Regions from separate parts of the Homo sapiens genome. Here region 1 is linked to region 2. The links come from fine-mapping of genetic effects on gene expression. A gene starts in region 2. The other region holds a variant in brackets. All regions are shown on one strand. Distances are from middle to middle. Region 1 overlaps PIP4K2A (phosphatidylinositol-5-phosphate 4-kinase type 2 alpha). Region 2 holds the start of COMMD3 (COMM domain containing 3).

What was found.
Region 1: its variant is fine-mapped to the expression of COMMD3 in whole blood (TOPMed, PIP 0.93).

The regions. Positions count from the first base shown.
Region 1 is chr10:22,583,771-22,594,315 of GRCh38, forward strand. It overlaps PIP4K2A (phosphatidylinositol-5-phosphate 4-kinase type 2 alpha), which reads right to left. Exons shown (of 10, transcript NM_005028.5): 4 at 7,859-8,011. Among named protein-coding and RNA genes, the nearest start is that of PIP4K2A, 130 kb to the right of the region's middle. The variant A/T (reference allele first, on the strand shown) is at 5,310.
Region 2 is chr10:22,309,598-22,319,970 of GRCh38, forward strand. COMMD3 (COMM domain containing 3) reads left to right here and starts at 6,791. Exons shown (of 8, transcript NM_012071.4): 1 at 6,791-6,959; 2 at 8,287-8,398; 3 at 8,508-8,571; 4 at 8,675-8,709; 5 at 9,056-9,116; 6 at 9,209-9,265; 7 at 9,362-9,421; 8 at 10,342-10,373. The coding sequence starts at 6,821. It overlaps COMMD3-BMI1 (COMMD3-BMI1 readthrough), which reads left to right and starts at 6,791. Exons shown (of 14, transcript NM_001204062.2): 1 at 6,791-6,959; 2 at 8,287-8,398; 3 at 8,508-8,571; 4 at 8,675-8,709; 5 at 9,362-9,421. The coding sequence starts at 6,821. RefSeq lists a silencer at 6,649-6,768 and an enhancer at 7,039-7,338.

The DNA.
Region 1 (10,545 bases), 270 kb after region 2:
TAGCCACAGAGATGGGACGCCCAGATTCCCTCCAGGGAAGGTCATGCTGCCCAGCTGAGCGTGTACGGTCTGCAGAAGGCCTGCAGGGGCAGCTCCTTCTAGGTCTGCCTTCCGAGGGCAGCCTGTCATTTTGGCCCAACATAGGAGCCTCTAGGGGCATGTTCCATAGTGCCCCGCCAGGTTAGCTGAGGCTTGACTGGGCCAGCATGGCAGTCTGACTTCTCCCTCTGCCCAATCTCACTTCTTTCCTCTTCCCTACATAAGCTTTGATCCTGATCAACATCTTGACCCCAAACTGTGTCATCATCTGGTTGGGCAAGTCACTGTGTGTGAGAGTTGGCAGACCATGACAACAAATTCAGGCCCCCAGGAATTACAGAGGTGGGAACTCTCAGGAGTAAGTTTTGAATAGTTACGTACAAAACGTGTAAAGAAACAAAGGATGCAATTTCAGAGATGAGCATAAATCAAGAAACTATCAGGAATGAACGGTCAGATTTTGAAAAATCTTCTGGAAAACTTCTAGAATAAAAAAGATAATTGTTGAAATTAAAAAAAAAAAAGATTAGAACAGTTGAAGAGACACTTAGGACTGGATGATATATTTTGAAGAATTCACCCAGAATTGGGCAGAGATGTTTGGAGATGGAAAATGGAAAAGAAAAGTTAAAGATGGGGAAGCCAGGATGAGCACGTTAAAGATGTACTTGCTGGAGAAACAGAAGGGGAGAGGTGAGGCTGAAAGAGAAAAGGACTGCGGAACTTCCAGACCCTGGAGAAGAAGTACTGCAGGAAAAGCTTGCTGGGGAGTGTGCCGGGCAGCTCCCCATGAAACTAGGAGGAAATGGCTGAGGACATTGGGAACAGAGGGCTACAAATGACGCCATCGGCAAGCTTCGGGGCACTCATTGGGCCACAGGAACTCCCAAGATGACAAATACCTTCCCCTGTTTCTAAGAGAGAAGCAAGACGTGTCCGCAGTTTACAATGGCAGCAGAGGGTCTACTGGGAGCTTGTGTTTAGTCTCATAATCTGATACTTACACAGGACTGAGAATATCCAAGTACTTTCCAAATTTTAATTGATCACTCCTCCGGAAAAATGAACAAAAGGGCCCAAGAGCAGATTCAGAACTGAGTGCTCAGAATGTTCTGTTGTTCCAGAACACAGGAGCTGCCCTGTCACTCACCGGGGGCACATGAGCATCACCTGGGGGCCTGGTAGAAAGGCGGCCTCCACAGACTCCCCGACAGCCCCTCCAGACCCAGCCAGTCAGAGCCCTGATGAAAGTCTAAGAAGCACTGACACAATGTGGAACCTTTTCTCTTTTGGTGCTATAACCCTCTCCACTCTTTTTTGTATTTAGCTTTTATGGTCCCTATTTTCTCAGTTTTGCTCTACCGAAGTCTCATCCTTTGAATAGTAACACCAACGTCCCTAACCTTCGGGAAAGGATAAGCAGATGTACTATGAGGAGATTTCAAAGAAGTCACATGTTTGCCCTAAAATCCTTGAAATTTGAGGTGCTGATTAGCTTATTTAACAGGGAGTTCAGATTTTGGGGCAAAACTTCTGGATTCAACTAAAGATATTAATTGTTTCCCTAAATAAAAGGATAAGAAAGGAATTTAAGTCGTTTTTTATCAATTTTACCCATTTATCGATTCAGTCACTTTGAAATAAGAAAGTAAATTAAAATGCTGCATTTCAAAAGCTATTAAAATACTCAATAATATTTTCATAAGGTATTTCTTGATCACCTATATTGCAGCTTCCCTCGGGTTACATTCTAAGTCCTATACAACTTCAGGGAAGTATGTTACCAACAGTGCCTCTCAATTTTTTTTTTTTTTTTTGAGACAGAATCTCACCCAGGCTGGAGTGCAGTGATGCCATCTTGGCTCCCTGCAACTTCTGCCTCCTGAGTTCAAGGGATTCTCATGCCTTAGCCTCCTGAGCAGCTGGGACTACAGGCATACACCCCCAGCTAATTTTTTGTAGTTTTAGTAGAGACCGGATTTCACTGTGTTGGCTAGGCTGGTCTTGAACTCCTGGCCTCAAGTGATCCGTCCACCTCGGCCTCCCAAAGCACTGGGGTTACAGGCATGAGCCACTGTGTCCAGTCAATACTTTTCAATTTTAATTCAAGTTGAAGCTACATGATACCAAAGCTCCCAATGAATTCACGTCAGTGCGGGGAAAAAAAAAATTCAGTCGATTTAAGATAAAAAGATATTCAAGTAGGCAAATAGGTTTTTTACCATTTTTTCCTTTTTGAATGTTCTAACATTGTTTAGTTAATCAACTGATAATCATCATTTATAGGATCCGAGTTTCTTACAGCCTAACAGAAATGTGAAAAGGATATTTATAGCGAAACATTATTTTCCCAACTACAAGAGAAAATCAAATGAAGTAAACAAAATTTATGAAAGTTTGCTGTGCTTAATATGAATTCTCCATTGGTCTGAGAGATGATGCTCTTCTTTCTTTGCACAGAGTGAAAGCTAGGGTAGAATTTGGGCAGGAAATAAAGAATAGAGCAAGATACTGGAACTTGGGGGAAAAATCTAACTCCTCACGGCTGAAGTCTTCGTAATTCTGCATCAGTGCCACAGTCTACCAGAAACCAGGCCCCCTAGTGGATTAAAAGAGTTAAGGACTGAATGCCACATGAGAATGATTTCAACACTGAGGTGTAGGAAATTAAATACAAGAACGATATTTAATTAAAAATCTTATTCAGTCACTCATTTAGCACTTCTTTTTCTTTTTTTCGAAACGGAGTCTCGTTCTGTTACCCAGGCTGGAGTGCAGTGGCACAACCTCGGCTCACTGCAACCTCCACCTCCTGGGTTCAAGCGATTCTCATGCCTCAGCCTCCCGAGTAGCTGGGACTACAGGCACGTGCCATCATGCCTGGCTAATTTTTGTATTTTTAGTAGAGATGAGGTTTCACCATGTTGGTCAGGCTGGTCTTGAACCCCTGACCTCAGGTGATCCACCCACCTCGGCCTCCCAAAGTGCTGGGATTACAGACGTGAGCCACTGCGCCTGGCCCATTTAGCACTTCTTATATACTAGACACTGCTCTGAGCATGTTATAATATGAATTCACCTAATTAGCACAACACCCAAATGAAGAGGGTACTATTATCCAAATATTATAGACCAAGAGGTGTCAAAAGTATAAGTAAATTGCCCAAGGTCATGCCATTGGCCAGGGGCATGGCTGGGACCAGAAGGTGGCTGGCTGGCTCCAAGTCCTTGCTCTTGAACCACCTGCCATCCCAGATTGCTGGGAAGGTCAGTGTGTCAGAAAATTAAACCTAGGAAGAATTTATTCAAATATTCAAATAACTAGCCATGTTCTACTTCTCCAGAGGCTGGCCTTGGGCAATTTTAACCCTCCAGAATATAATTCCAACTGTGGCTGCATTTCCTTAAAACAAAAAACAACAAAGGAAAAGAAAAAAAAAAGGGCTGTTGGGTAACCAAAGTTGTCAGAAAGTCCATGCAATTCACTCCACGGGAGAAACCCTCTATGAGAGCCTCTCATCAACTGATATGCACCTGAACGATCTGCATTACTTGTCTAGATTCGGAAGGTTCAGAAGCCCAGAGAGTTCCAAGGCAAAAGCAACAACAAGCAAGAAGAAACAGAAGAAATGATGATCACTACTGAAGCTAGAGAGAGAAAGTTTCTTAGATACAAACCCTAAAAGTACTCTAGGCCCACAGAAAGTAGGAATGAAGGCCTGACATATACCTCAAATACCTCTGAGCATCTCAAACCACAGGGATAGAAACACAAAGCTTGACAGGCCTCCCTGGGTTTACCAATGACAGGCCTGTGTCCGGTCACACAGAATCACATGAGGACATGCCAGGCTGAGCCCACCACCCAGTAATATTCATCAAAATCTCGTCTGGAAGTGGCATACAAGAAGAACAGCCTGAAGAACATTCAAACAGAAGCCAGAATGGGAGAGGGCTAGGCAGCCGGTGTGCATTATAGCCTTTCTCTGTAGAACAGCATTTACTAAATGTAAACTACACACTGGTGTGGCCTTTGCTAATTGCTGCGGGTGTGATGTTTGACTCGGCGGACTGCATCTTCCTTCATGAACACCTGCCAACCTGAGCAGGGTCCCAGACCTGCCCTCAGTGAGCCTAGCAGGGGTCACCCCGAATAGATCAGTATCAAATAAGCTGTGTGAATGTTGAGACCTTTTATGAGGTTTCTGTGGAATTCTCTGATCATGTAATTAACACTGTTACTCTTCACTGCTGCTGTATTTTTAAAAACCTCTTCTATGTGAGATTTTGCTGAGATGTATATGAGTGGCATGTCCACCTTTAATGGTCAACGTTTGTGTCACCTATACATTTCCTTGTTCTTAATTTGCTTTCGTTTAAATGTAATTTAAAAATGGACAAATTAGCAAAACGGTGCTGCAACTGTGGCTGTATTTATACATGGCCTATACTGATAATTAGCAGCCTATACGGACAATTTTTTTTTAAGTTCTCTAACATTCTTGTATGTTTCTCAGCTTGTGGCAAGGATGTTGTTTTATCAGGTCAGATGTCCCTGTGTCCGCTCTGTGGGGAACTCCTTAGAGTCAACCCTGTTGCATCTTAGTACCAAGACCACTTACATTTCTCCTTGGCAACAGACTCAAAGTATCAAGCATGCTGGTCATCTTGGCATGAATATCTACGCTCATTCCAGGCTCCATTTTGTGCCTTTATCTTTCTGCCTCTTCCTTTTCTTTTTTTCATTTATTCTAGCTTGTATTTCCAACTTCTTTGAAGGCCACCTTAAATCCTTTCTGGAATAAGGTCAAGAGTGAATACATGAATAAATGAATGAATGAATGAAATGCAGGTGCAGAAGCTGAGTTCAGAGATCATCCAAGAGGCAGTTCCTAACAGGTTAGGATCTATGTCTCCTGACTTCTACTTAGTGCCCTTTAAATAATTTATATTAATAATGTGATTCCCAATCATTAAGACCCTACAAATTATATTTAAAATATTCTGTTTATAAAAAGAAAAAGTATAGATGTTGGATAAAGGAGACTTTTCTGAATAAAGAACTCACCAATAAGATAACAATTTTGTAGCAGTGGAACAGAAGGAAGTCTTTATACTGTTAAAGCCCCTGGGAGGTGTCAATAGACTTATTTTGATCCCACACTTATTTTATGTAACACTGGGGATATGTCAAATCCCTATGTTAGGTTACAATAACTAACCCAGAGAAAACATTTCAAATCGTGATTTTTGTAAAGTCAAAGGATGCT[A/T]AACTCAAAGTTGTCATCAAGAAGTTGGTACTTCAATTCTGTGTCACATTTTATTAGCATGGTATCATGGCCATTTTTTAGAACAATATGCTCTCATCAGTCATGAGATATCACTTCGCTTTGAATGTTCTGAGACAACTGAAAGAAAGTATAAAGAGAATGCATAAGTATGATATCAATTTCCAGAGGGGAAAAAATGAAAAAGTAGACAGTTTAAAAGGTGAAGAGTTCAAAGCTGCAACCTGTAATTCAATTCATTCAGATAACAGAGCCTCATGTCTTCCCCCTCACAGGTAGCATCCTGGCACTTTAAAATTTCCTGTAGAATAAGAGGCAGTAGCATAAGCAGTGTAGAACAAATTTCAAAAGGAATAGATATTATAAAAGATTTATTAGATATTAAATGAATTTAGAGGCTAATGATTTTAGAAAACAAACTAGAGGCAGTACCAAGTTTCAAGAAACAGAATATAGCTCAAAGATTTTTATAGACTTCACTGCAAGCAAAATGCAATTGATCATATTTGCAAAGATTGGAAGAATAAGCAACTGCCAAGAAAGAATCCATGATATTAGAGCATCATGCATGAACATAAAGTAATGCTTTTAAAGGGATGTTTAAACAGACATCTAGGAGCTCACAAGTCCAGGCCAGTGCTGCCTTCGAAGCAGATACTTAGTAAGTGTGATTGTTTATACTCGAGAATCCTTTTATTAATATATTCAGGACCTGCGGCACTTTATTTTGAATACCCATTGTGACAGCCAATTTTTACCTTTGGGGGATTGGGAGCTATTTAAGTTAAAAACACCGTGTGACTCTGCTATGAATGGAAAGTTTGTGTCCCCCAAAATGCTTACGTTGAAACCCTAATCCCCAAGTGATGGTATTAGGAGGTGGGACCTTTGAGAGCTAATTAGGTCATGAGCTTAGAGCCCTCATTATGTGATCAGTGCCCTTATTAGAAGTGACAGAAGAGTGCTTTTGATCCTATCCCACCCACCATGACCCTGCCAACACACGTGAGGCTACAGTGAGAAGCTGGCTGTCTGCAAACCAGGAAGAACCTGACCATACTGGCACCTTGATCTCAGACTTCAACCTCTAGAACTGTAAGAAATAGATTTCTGTCATTTAAGCTACCCAGTCTACGGTTTTTTATGACAGCTCAAGCTGACTAAGGTCCTAAAAGCAACAATGTGTGTATGTGTTTTAAACACCAGTTGTGAAGATGATTCCTGGGATGTTGCAACAGCAGACATGTTCATACCATATGACTACAATTTCTCCAAGTGACTTAGTTGTTACGTTATTTTTATACCATGGATGTTATCTTGATAATAGCGATGCTATGGCCACCACCACACATTGAGTATCTAGTGTGTGACAGACACTGTGCTAAGCACTTGACATGCAATTTCCTATTTAATCTTTAGAATCCATATTAGGTGTTATTATTATCCCGACTGTATAAACAAAGAAACTGTGGCTTCAAAATCCAGGCAGGGTGTGGAGGCTCACACCTGTAACCTTAGCACTTTGGGAGGCCAAGATGGGAGAACTGCTTGAGCCCAAGAGTTCAAGACCAGCCTGGGCAACATAGCAAAACTCCACCTCTATAAAAACACAACTTAAAAAAATTGGCCAGGCATGGTGGTGCATACCTGTGGTCCCAGCTACTTGGGAGGCTGGGGTGGGAGGACTGCTTGAGCCCAGGAGGTTGAGCATGCAGTGAGCTGTGATCACGCCACTGCACTTCAACCTGGCAACAGAGCAAGACCCTGTCTCTAAAAAACAACCAAGACCAGAAGTCACATGCTTAGTAAGCGACCTGGCTGGGATTTGAGCCCAGGATTGTCCAACGCTGGACTTCATGCTCTTATACTCCATGGTGAAGGAGGCCTCTCACAGCGCGGGCTGGGCCTTGGGAACATGTGCTCTACCAGAGAAGCTTGTGCTGGAATTTACTCCAGGAGAGACAGATTGCTGCTCCCAAGGATGGTCTACTTTACCTCCAGTGATTACAATGGAATTATGCTCGGGGATGAAAAGGGGGCAAGAAGCAGACCAACACCCACCTTCTAAAATCAGAGAGCTTGCTCCGTAGCAGATTGTGAATGGCGTGGGCCCTGCTGGGGCCAGGACAGAAGAACCAGTGACAGCAAAATAGGATTCGGAGGTGTAAATAGATACATACTCAGAGGTCAACACCTAATCTCTGGCACAGGCAAAAACTTCTGCAAAGTTGCCAAATCTTAAGCTGAATGATTTTAAAATCAGAGTAGTGATAACTGAAACTATTACACAAGAGTATTTAGGTTAAAAGTGTTATACAAATAATGAATGACCTTTATAGCACAAGCATGCCTAAAGGTTAACTGCCAGGAATCTGGCCACTGTAATTTTAGAACACAGGGTTAGAGGAGATGTTTATGTGAAATGTGTTCTTCTTGTTCTCTAACTATATATTTAAATCTCTGGCCTTGGTGAGAAATCGCTACGCATGTTAATCTTCTTGGAGTTTCAAATAAAGATCAAGAAAAATTACCTGGTGGTATTTCTTCAGGATGTTGTGCATTTCGGCCACGTCTTCACTGGTAATAGTCTTGATGATGTATCTTTTGTCGTAGGAAGTGTGAAAACGAGCTCCACTGCGGGCCTGGGAGTCGTTGGGGAGGGGTGCGCTCCTGGTCAGGGAATTCTTCCCGGGTGGGGTAAGAGGGGAAGGAAGGCGGGGGAAGATAACTAGTTAAAGGTGTGGCTTTCCGATTCCCAGATAATTTGTCATCATTGCAAGTTTTCAAAAACATTTGTGTGTGGGATAAATTGATAAGTAGGATGACAACATTTTTACATGCATCATAACTCACATTGCAAGCCTTTCAGATGAAATGAAAACAGCTTGAATTGTACTATGATTCTAATATCTTTAAAGCAGGCTAATGTCTAGAATTATAATCAAAGTAACTTTAATCACTTAGTTCTTTTCAGAGTTGGACAAGCTCTCAAAGTTTTCTTCTGAATAAAATTAGGTTCCAGTCATAAAAGAAAATTTTACAGTCACTGAGCATTTCCTTATATGACAGGTATCGTGCCAAGCATTTTGCACAGATTATTTCCCCCAATTCTGATAACATTCCCATGCAATGGTTACGATTGCTATCATCACTATTTTACAGATGAGGAGATGGGAATAAGAGAGGCTTAGTATCTGGGCAAAGGGCATATAGCTAATAAGGGAAGAGCTAGAATTCTGACTCCAGTGTGGCTGGCTCAGAATCCAAACTCTCAACTAGTAAACTACTCAACTAGTAAAGTACTTAACTTGCAGACTATGCTACCTGTGTGCCCCAGGAGGAGGAGGCAGGAGCCTGGGAGAGTGTCTTCTAAAACAGCTCCTCCTTAGGCGATTTGAATTTGGTCCATCCTCCACTCCCTACCACCATTTTTGAGAACTACTGATCTCCTGGAGGGTGGACAAGGACGGGCTCTGAGTAGGGGCTCTGCTGACATCATTCACTCCAAGATCTGGTTCATGCTAGTGACACTGGCTAGGTAGGTCTACCCTTCTCCTCCCATGTGACTCTTCCGTTCAGATCTCCTCTTTCTTACATCCTCCAAGAAGCCTCCTCCTTGCCCCAACCTCTTGACAATGGCCGTCCAGCCATGGGGTCTAGCAAACCCCTGGCCCCCAGAAAGTCTCGTCTCCATCCTTGCCGACTGCTCCTGAGCAGTGACTTTCACTCCTTGCCTGGCCCTGCGGGATGGCCTGTGTGGGATTCAAAGGCAAACATGCTTTCTCTCTTTAACTTGCTCTCTGAAGTGGGCATTCAAAGGCCTCAGTGGCCAAATGCTGTCAAGTTAAGGGAACACAGATACCTTCAGAGGGGCAGGTGATAGATAGCTCTGCCCATGAATTTGCAAAAGAAAGAGTGCCTTTCTGTCTAGTATATTCCAGTCTCTTTATCCTTTCCTTCCTTTCTAGATGAAATCAACAGGACTGAACCACCTGAGGTAGAATCCATTGCAGCAGTGCAGGGGTTTACGCAGGCCCTACCTATGCCTGAAGAGAAAAGTGGCCCATGAGCAAATCTTCATCTTCCAGGATTCTCACCTCACCACCCTGGCACCCCCTGTGGTGGATCACACGTTCTGCAATAGCACACCTTGATCTGAAGGCAAGCAGGCGCACCTGCCAGATGCAGAGTCCAGGCCACCAAGTAACTGAATTTGCTTTCCTTAGCTTATTAGAAAACTTGAGAGAAGGAAAAAAAAAAATCTACATAATCCCCAATGACTTTAAATAGCAAGACTTGGCAGTGTTCAGTTATTCTTAAGACAACTAAAATTTATTAGATAGACTGAGAATGATAAAAATGACTTTCAGGATGAAAATGCCTACATTAACAAGAGTTTAATTCTTAATTACATTTTTCTTTCCTAAAACATGAACAAGATCTCCTTTATACTACTTCCCACTTAGAACAAAAAGGAAGAAAATCAAAGTGAATTTCCCCTTGTGGGGTTTTAAATGCTAGCCCCCAAAAAGCAATTATTGCTCTTTGTTAGTGGTCTTACTTTTTTCTTGCAATCACTAATTTGCAAAAGGGTATTTCTTTCAAATAAAACAAGAACTCTAGGAACTGTAAGATTGCAGATTATCTTTGGGCATAAAATCAAAGTGGGAACAATCAAGTTTATGAAAGCCAGGTGGAGCAGACCAAGTGGAACAGACCTTAAACTCTGTCAAACTGACAATACGTGTAAAACAACTTTTGGGGGATGGGGAATAGTAAAGGAGAACTGTATTCAGCACAGGATAGAATTCCAGCAGCCTCAGTTTCATAGATCGTTTTCTTATGCACATTAGATAGGACAGTATAACGTCCTCTCATGGGCCAATAGGGTGAATCAAAAGCTGCATAGTCAGTGCATCTCAAACTTAACAAGCAACTGAATCACCCAGGGATCATGTGAAAATGCAGATTCTGATCCAGCAGGTCAGGGGTGGGGCATTTTCAGAAGTAGATGCTGCTGCTGGAGTGGGTCTGCAGACCACACATGAGAACCAAGGTCTACAGAATGGTGTTTACCCTGTGTTTTACTGGCATGCAGCACGTAAAGTCTAGCGTATTAAGTACATTATAATTACAGACTTACCGGCACTCATGCCTTTCCCATTATATTCTCTACACCTCTAGTTCGATTAAAATGGGAAACTTTATAGTTCAGAAT
Region 2 (10,373 bases):
AAATATAGATTAAAATGCTTACACAAAGAAAATTAATTTTGAAAATAACATTTGAGAGAGTTAGAAAAACATTTATGTTTTAACCTTAATAAAACAATGAAACAAAAGTTCAGGGAAAAACTGAGTATATGGGAAGAAACACAGTGGAAAAGTTTAATCTATTTTTTTAGGTGCTTGTTTTCTCAAAACTCTGTAAAACTACTTTCTAAACATTCACCACGGTGTAAAAATCAGCTACGTATAAACAATTCAAAGTATTTTCTGAATAGTTCTAGCTATGTAACAAATGTGAAAAAGCTGAACACAATTATTCTACTAGGATTTTTAAAAATGTAGTTTTTAGACTGACTTATCCATAAAATGGCTTCAAGTCTATATTTAATTTGAAAAGGGGGATAAAATCAGTATTCTGTTGAATATAACAACCATAATAGAAAAGTTAAATTCTTTTTTTTTGAGACAGAGTCTCACTCTGTTGCCAGGCTGGAGTGCAATGGCACGATCTTGGCTCACTCAACCTCCGACTCCCAGGTTCAAGCAATTCTCCTGCCTCAGCCTCCCTAGTAGCTGGATTACAGATGCATGCCACCACGCCTGGCTAATTTTTGTATTTTTGGTAGAGACAGCGTTTCACCATGTTGGCCAGGATGGCCTCGATCTCCTGACCTCATGATCCACCCACCTCGGCCTCCCAAAGTGCTGGGATTACAAGCGTGAGCCACCGCGCCCGGCCCAAAATGTTAAATTCTTAACCAGTATCATTTTAAATATTGTACACAATTAAAAATATTAAAACACTTATCTAGGCTTTCATTGCCATGTAAGCTCTTTTGAAATATTAATTTTGGTTTAAATGCTTACTTTAAATGAGTTAAAAGTACTTTAGCTGTAAAGTCTCCTTAACTGTTTATAATGTATTTAATGCAAATCATCCCTTCTTATATACTAACTTCCATTCTAAAATGCTTCATTTGACAAGTGAATATAGTTACATTTTTCAGTTTATAAGCAATTATACTGTTACTTTGGTTTTAATCTACAAAAACCTTTATTTTTGTTTTCATTTTTGTTTGTAAAATTATAGTTCCTTAAACAAAATATACTTATTTGTACACATTTTAACATGTAAAAAGCATGTTCTCAAAATACAAACTTGAAAAAGTTACTGGCTTTCAACAATAATATCCCACAGCATAGGCCCATTTGTTCCATTTTTTGCTGGAATTCGTGAAACCAACCCAAACTCCAATTTCTAAGGTATGAAAAAACACAGAGATTCCAAATCCAGACCTAAAAAACGAAGAGACTCTGTTAGACATTCTCTGCTGTTGTAGTCTAAATGTAGGACATCTTGAAACTGATTAGATTCTGGACAAAACAGATGATCTTTCAGTCTTTTCCAAGCCTTACTAATGAAGCTTAGTTGAATTCATTGTAGCTAAAAGAATCTTGGATTGTGTCACAGAAAATAAACACTAAATAAGCTTTCTGTGACACTTCTCAGGTCCTTTCTCTCTTCCTTCCTCTTCCTCTTTCCCCCCTTTCTCTCTCTTCTTCCCTCCTTCCCTCCCTCTTTTTAAAGATATAAAACAATTTAAAGGACTGTCTGTGTACACATGGAAGAATTAGATACAGTCATCAATGTAAACTTGTTTCATGTCTCTTCTTCACTTTACCCTCCTACAGCTAAGCCATGGGCCATCCTGGCTGATACCAGATCAATGATATAGGAAACTGAAGTGGTGACGTTTATAATTTTAGTACAGAAAAAAAAATCAACCTGCTGTTGAGGAGGTAACTGTGCTTATTATCTAAATGGTCTATTTGATGGAATTTATTAGGTGATTGGCCAGTTCCTAATTTTCATATAAATTAACTGGTGAAGATAGAAATTATGTGATTTAAGAATTGAACTTGCTTTTTATAATCCATACAAAAGATAAGTGAATCATTTAAATCACTTACGGAATTTAAAGGAAAATTATTTTTTATTTGTCTGTGCAGAGAAATTCTAAGACACATAATGCAACCTGTTCTTTTCTCATTAAATGTTACATGGAGTATGACTGCTTTCTTTCATTTCTTCCTAACTTCCTTCCTTTAACTTAAAATTTGCCTTCATCTTTTGCCAAATTACATTTGTTTATTTTCATTTCTTTTTTACAAATCGATTTCTCATTTCTTCTTAGATGAAGACTTCACAATTTTGGTCTTTACAACTCAGATATTCCCCATGTGACATTAACTGCTTTGCTTAAAAATAAGGGATCAAACTTCCTAAAATACGTTTCAACATGCTACGCTGAAGTCCTAAAGAGTAGACATGACTTTTCTAATATCCACGAAATCCTTTTAAAACTGTGGACTGGTTAGATACAAAGATTTGATATTTAAAGTTATAATTTCATTCTTAGGTCTGCTCCTTTAATTTTGCCATTATCTTATACTCACTCAAGTAGCTAACAAAATCATGGCATGACAACACTGATGACAGCTCCCAAATTTCACTTTAGAAATTAAATAGTATTTTCTTGCCAAGATTTTGACTACAGAGTTTCTTATTTGCAAAGTTTAACAAAATTATGGTTTTCTAGGCCAAGGTGTGCAGATTACTTGAGGTCAGGAGTTTGAGACCAGCCTGGTCAACATGGCAAAATCCTGTCTCTACTGAAAATACAAAAATTAGCTGGGTGTGGTTGCATACACCTGTAATCCCAGCTACTTGAGAGGCTGAGGCATGAGAATTGCTTGAACCCAAGAGATGAAGGTTGCGTGAGCTGAGATCATGCTGCTGCACCCAAGCGACAGAGTGAGACTCTGTCTCAAAAAAAAAAAAAAAAAAAAAAAAGAAAAAATTACGGTTTTCTAATTTCAGGAAATGTTGTGAGATCTTATATAATAAACTCAATTTCTCAGTAGCATGATAATTTGACTTTTTAAAACTTAGATTTAAAATATTTAATTTTTCTTATATTTTGAAGTTTTATGTTTTATATTTCCCAGATAAAACTTACGAAAATGAAATATTTAAAATGGTACCGGCCGGGTGCAGTGGCTCACGCCTGTAATCCCAGCACTTTGGGAGGCCAAGGTGGGCGGATCATCTGAGGTCAGGAGTTCGGGAGCAGCCTGGCCAACATGGAAAAACCCCCATCTCTACTAAAATAAATAGATAAATAAATAAATAACATAAAATGGTACTAAATGATGACAATATTAAATAGAAATTGTACTATTTACCATTTAATATAAATTTATTCAAAAAAGTTTTAGGGGAAAAATACAAAACACTTGTGCCAAATCATAAGCGTAAGTTATCTGTTTTAGAGAACACTGTATCATTAATTTTAAACCCTGTGGTTACAGTTTATTTAATGTAATTTGTATTTCATTTCCCTCACACATTTTTAAATCCACATATGCAAATTAAACTATACAATGTGAGAAAAGGTTATATTTGTCCATATCAATTATTGCAGCAATGACTGTTTAGAAATAATTAGGGATTGGATTACATGTTTAAATTGAAAATAAAAGCTTTACTGTCCCCTCTGAATACTCAGTTTGGTGTCTCACAGTGTGATATAAGATGCAATTTGAGACCACTGAACTCTGTGATCATGAATGTGCAAAAACTTGACCATTCAAATTCCAAGTCACAAACTATGCCTTGCCAAGTTATTTAATAAAAGAATATAGACAGGTTTTATAAACTTCACTGAAACAGTTTTTGACTTATACTCTCAAGTGTCATATATAACTCAGTTAAATACTCCTTCCAACTGTCCATTTGTGGTTAAAATAGCTTTAAAACAGTAAAGACTATTTTCATTAACAAATATCTCAGAGTTTAAAGTAACCATCAAAGCATCGGTGTTAGGGAACACAGAGAGAATGGTTTCTTATTTAGAGGTAGTTTCTAAAGTGTTCTAAACTTTCTTCTCTGTAGCATATGAGCAGGCAGGGATAAAACAGATCCCCACTAGAATATATAATAAATATATAAGCCAGTTAAAACTAGTCTTTGTCTCGATGGCACTTAAACTTATTATTTTTTCTCCCCATGGAGTTCCATGAGCTCTTCAATCTAAAGGAATATCTTCCTTCAGCGTTATTTGCACAAAAGCAAAAGTACTTATACAATCTGAAAAAGAAAATATTGTAATTCATAACACTAACAAATGCAGCAATGAGGCCTGTGGGAAAAGCTGACCACATAGATCCGGTAAAAGCCCTAGCCTATTTAATTGTAATCACAATAAAGGGACCAATATTAAATTTGTTTCTAAAAATATTAACCAGTTCAAAGGATATCAAATGTACTTGAAACTCTAAAACATTGTTTAAAAAGGTAACTTCTAGTTCTTCAAATGATTTCTAGATTCTCAAAAAGAAAAATAAATTTATCAGCATTGTCTACCTAATATTTGCAGTTTAGGAGGCAAGATATATTGTTAATGTGAAGATGGTTGCATCTGTATTTTGTTGTTTTCAGCTGCACATAATTGTTCTTTTAAAAGGCTTTTGGGAAGCCAAATTTAGTTTACTGGCTTTGAGCATGCAGAATTTTTTAAAGTTTAGTCAAAGTTCCAATGCTGTTTTGAGTAAAGCAAAATTTTAAACAGTATTTTCATACTTTCAGAATATGTTCATATGTAGTTTTTCTAACATAAAATGCATTGATCTTTATGGCTGTAACCAAGAGAGTCTACATCTGGGTAGTCATGCCTTTTGATGATCATACTTCCATGTATTTCAATGACTTGTCAAAGACACACGTTTGAAACACTCGATCCTGTGCCTCCTTCAAAGGAAGTTTAAATAAATATACCTGTAGTAGGAAAATTCCGTTTTTCTAGCATTAGAACACATTATGGTGAAAATTTTTGTGAGCTTAAAATGTGCCCATCACTTAGGCCTAACACATGAATATACTTAGGCCTAAGAGGAGGAAACATTCTAAGAGAAAGTACTTATACATGGGCAACAAAGTAATATGACAGCTATTATGGAAACAATCCTTCTGAATTTCCTAACTTTCATGCCCACAAATTGACAACCACTTGTGTTTATTTTTCTTTTAAAATAATATTTTAAAATCTATGTCCATGATTAATACTCTCTTTTTTGACACTAAATTGAGTATTAGAGTTATCAACTCAAATTCTATTAGAGTATTAATAATCAACGTTACACTAGGTCATAAAATACATGTGTAATAAACATAATAAGCTTGGGTGTTGTTAATATTGTTGAACATTTACACAACTCTGTCCTGACTATTCTCTATGTAATCAGGTATCATGAAGTTTTTCAACTGACATTTTACTACTAATGAGAAACAAATTAGGAAGATGAGTGATGGGAAGAAAAGATGAACATGATTAATAGGTGCTTGTTTCATAAAGACTCTAGGGAGACTTTTAAATCCTTCACTGCTACTATATTCTCACCGAGTGAGGAGCCACTGCACGTGCCTTTTAAAGCTTTCAAAGGAGGGCTGAGTAGTTACTCAATCTGTTACTGATGCTTACTCCATTTGCATCCTGTTGTGAAATGAGGTACACTTTATGTATTGGTGCCAAGGTAAATGTCAACTGTATCCATCAAAAATTTTTAAAACAGACATCTAAGTTAGAAAAAGAAAATAATGTTTCACTTTGGGTCTAATGTTGCAAATAATCGCTCCTGAAGACTAAAACATCTTTGTTGTTCCGCATCCCTTCCCTCCACCCTTCAAGAACTTGCATTTTTTAACTTTTCAAGTGCTTTTGATTAAAAATACCTAATCTACTTTGCTTCACGGGTTTTTTAAAGAATCATTCTTGTTCTCTAAACCAACTTCGTAGAAATAGAGAGGAAGTTAAACTTTATACAGTATTTGAATCTTTAAAGGTATGAGCATCCTAAACAGTAACTCACTTCTAATAAAGATCTTGCCATTCCTAACTGTACTTTACTAAGGTAGCTGTTTAATAAAAACGTATTTATGCAGATTCTATAGAGCAACTAAAACGGGACCCATAGATGTGGTGAGTAGCACAAAATGTGTATGGCAGTTGGCTTTATTTGCAGCGGCATATAAAATTGTTAATAATCCTGTCAAATCTGTTCATGAATAATTTATTAATCCGATTGCTGGAGTGCAGTGCATACAGGAACTCTATGTATGCGTGCATGTGTACACACCCCCCATGCAGGAAGGACACTACTGCCGTATTCCAGAAATGACAAAAAAAAAAAAGTAAAAATAAGCAAGAATCACATAATTAGATGTCTTACAGTCTCATAAAAGGGCAGTGCTGCGAGGTTAAGCTGGTGAGCTAAAAAACAAACAAAACAAACAAAAAACCACAAAAGCAAAATCCAGTTGCCTGAGATCGGAGCTTCCCGCAGGATTCGCGCAGAGCGAGGAGCGGGGAGGACGCCGTTTGCGGGAGGCGGGGGCCGGGATCCCGACACCGTCCGCAGTCTCCCCGGGGTCTCTCAGGGAACCGAGCTGGTGGCCGTCCGAGGTAAGCGCCGAACCAAGGAGAAAGCGCCGAGCGCGTCCACAAAACGCCCGAGGCCGCCCTTCTCGCCAAGGCTCGGCAGCTCCCGCGGCCTGCGCTGGACAAGCGAGAGCTGGACGGAAACGGTGGGAGGCCGTAGGCGGCGGCTGGGGGCGCGGGACCCGCGCGCGGGCGCGGAGGCGGGCGGGGAGGCCCCGCAGCCCGCGCCGCCGCCAGCCGCCCCGAGCCGCGTGCGCGCGCGGCCGCATCAGCTGAGCGCGCGGCGCGTGTCACGTGGTGTGCGTGTCGAAGGTCACGGCGCGCTCACAATGGAGCTCTCGGAGTCTGTGCAGAAAGGCTTCCAGATGCTGGCGGATCCCCGCTCCTTCGACTCCAACGCCTTCACGCTTCTCCTCCGGGCGGCATTCCAGAGTCTGCTGGACGCCCAGGCGGACGAGGCCGTGTTAGGTAAGCCGCTCGGCTCGGCTCGGAGCTGGATCCGCCGGGGTGGAGGGGCGCTCGGAGAAGAGGAGCCGGCGGAGCGAGAAGGGGAAAGCCCCGGGAAGAGGAAGTCTCCGGGCTTTGCCCTTCGCTCCGGACGGAGTGTTGGGGACGTGGCTCTGCCAGGACTCGGAGCAGACTCTGAGCATTGTTTTGGCCCCACTTGGCACCTGCATAGAGCCAACTCCACGTTCCTGGCCCGGTTTCCCTCCCAGTCTCTTTGTTCTTTTGTAAAGCCGGTGTTCAAGTCTTGTTTGTGGCCTAAACATCTAAGGTGTTTAGCCTTGTCTGAGGCTGCGGCTGTTTTGACAGTTGGACTTCATCTGGGGAGCTCCCTGCAATTCAAGCTTCCAGGGCTAGGCTAGCAAAGGTTTAAGGGTCTGTTTCCGAAGTAATTACTAGGTCAGACAGTGTTGACATTTGCCAACTTAGAGCATACCTCAAGTTGCTATGATCACTCCAGCGCTCTAGTTCAGCATGTTTACACAGGTTCTACGCCTAGAACCTTAAACTATGATGCACAATACTTTGTTCCGCCCCAGTTACCAGGATGCGAGTGTCTTTTAAGCGATCCGGTCAGTGACTGCGGAGGTGCAGTGTCAGTATGGATTGAAGACATATTTTAAGACCGATCGCTTTTAGATGATTTTCTTAAATATAAATATCCCAACAATTCAAATTTTTGTTTTTTTTCTGTAGTTTCATGAACTAAACACTTGTACAAAAAGTATGAAAGTGGAAGTTCTTAAACGAAAATAGTAACCACCACCTGGGTTAATCTCAAAAAAAAAATGACTGTCAAACCCTGAAAGTACTAATATAATTTTGAAATTTGTATCTTATATTCTGAACTCATGCCCTACCTTCTACCCCCTTGATGTATTTGTTCATGGAGCCGGTTACCCTAAACTCATCATTTTTAGGATGGAAGTTTATTCTAAAATTGACACAATGTAAAATATTTATCTTGTTTTTCCTTTGAATTTACTCCAGTGTTAGAATGACCATTGCATTGTTATATTTTCTTTGGGGGCTATAATATTTTTTAATAGTAAAAATATTAAGGCAAAATAAGTTAATTGAAGCTAGTAATAGTAGAGTTCTTGTTGTGTTCTTTTTATTGTTTTTCACTTGATCTTGTTGCTCATCTCATTTACTTATAATTGACTGTCCTTATAGTTGATGTTTTTAATCTTGTTAAAGGGTTTTTAAACCCAAATTAAAATATCCTTTTTGGAACATGACTGTAAAGAATTTATTATCATAGGCATCACTGGAAGTTAATTTATTTTAGATCATCCAGACTTGAAACATATCGACCCAGTGGTTTTAAAACATTGTCATGCAGCAGCTGCAACTTACATACTAGAGGCAGGAAAGCACCGAGCTGACAAGTCAACTCTAAGGTACAGGATTTATTTAAATATCCATTTATTTTCAAATACTACCTTAATGATTTCAATTTCAGTTTTAAAAATGGAGACAGAACTTTGGCTTTTTTTTTCTTTCTTCTAGCACTTATCTAGAAGACTGTAAATTTGACAGAGAGCGAATAGAACTGTTTTGCACGGAATATCAGGTTACTTACTTTAAAATTTTTAATTAACAGTACTATTTTTCTTTTACTTTGTTTGTAAAGATGTTTTTTTTTCTTTCTTTCTTGCTTTCTTTTTTCTCTCCAGAATAATAAGAATTCCCTAGAAATCCTACTGGGAAGGTAGGTACTGTATAAGGTGTCAAGCTGAGGCACTTTTCACTTGCAGGTATGAATGGAGAGTGTTGGTGTGAAACAAGATCTTCGGGATCTTGACCCAAAGAAAAGGAGCCAAAGGGCATGTCAAGCAATTGAAGTTAAGCTCATGTTTTTAAAGATCGTTTATTGAGATGATTTTGAAATGCTCCTTTACCATTCATAATTTAAAAATAAAGTTTAACAATGGTTTAAATTCAGAATGGATTAAAATGGAGTTGGGGGTGGAAAGTAGAGCCATTCTTAGTAAATATAAATAACTGAAAAGTTCTTCTGAGGAGACTATGTACGAAGTTATCATTGCATCTTTCAGTATAGGCAGATCTCTCCCTCATATAACGGATGTTTCTTGGCGCTTGGAATATCAGATAAAGGTAAAGTTTAAGAAACTTCTCTAGCGGGGGATTTAGGGAACTTCTTAAAACCTAGAGTTAAAAGCTGTTGCGTGTTTGTTGTGTTATTTTAGACCAATCAACTTCATAGGATGTACAGACCTGCATATTTGGTGACCTTAAGTGTACAGGTATTTATAGATAAGTCTTATCCAATAATGAAATTTATAATTTCATTGATTTAAATAAACAGCGTTTCTTGTTGCGTGTTTTTTTTCCTGCCCTAGAACACTGATTCCCCATCCTATCCAGAGATTAGTTTTAGTTGCAGCATGGAACAATTACAGGTACAGTATTAGGATCTATAAATATTCCTGTCTTTTTATAAATGTTTACTTGAGAGTTATACTCTTGGGAAGTTCAAAAGAAAATTAATCTAACCATTTGTCAGCAGATAATGAAGATTGGTTAAGGATTTAATGGGAAAGGGGCATCAAAAGTAGTATTTTAAGATAGGCTTCACTTGAAATTAAGATGTTATTAATAGAGAATTGGTCTGTATTTGCTGTTCTTGCTGATTGAAATAAACTTCTGTAGTGTTTAGTGTAAATTTCTTCTATTCATGATGAGTTTGGTCCAATAAGATAAACAAAATTAAGAGCATGGCTTTGAAAATGTCTTTGCTTTCAGAAATTGAATTAAACTGTCAAAATTGGATTTTGAAACTTTTTAAATGACTTTATAAAGGGGGAAGTATACATAACATTCTAAAACTGTTTATATTGCCCATTTAAGACTGGGAAAATTCAAAACTACATTTATTAGTGGATATGACAACGAATTTATTTCATAGTTTTTAAAAAATGAAGCTCATTACTGGAAATTTAAGTGAAATTGAATTTTTCAAAGGCATCTTCTGCAGAGTCGTTTTAATGTAACTATGAATCAAACTTTCAACTTTCAGAAAATGTGTATACAGCATAACCTTTGTTAGATAACTTGAGAAAATTCAGATGTATCTGGGCGGTTAAGGATCCGGTTAGAAATCATGTTTCAGTGTGAGGGCAAATAACCGATTTGAACATGAGGTATTTCCGAGGAAACGCTTTTTTTGCCCGATAGTAGTTTGTCAAAAGTTAAAATCTTGTTGAATTTTAAACTTGTTTGGAAGGTGTGTCCTGATTTTTTTTCTTGCATCTTTCTTGAGCTTGGATACTTCTTTCCATGTTTTATCCTAAAAACGTGGTATTGTATACACGTCTTTTAGGACTTGGTGGGGAAACTTAAAGATGCTTCGAA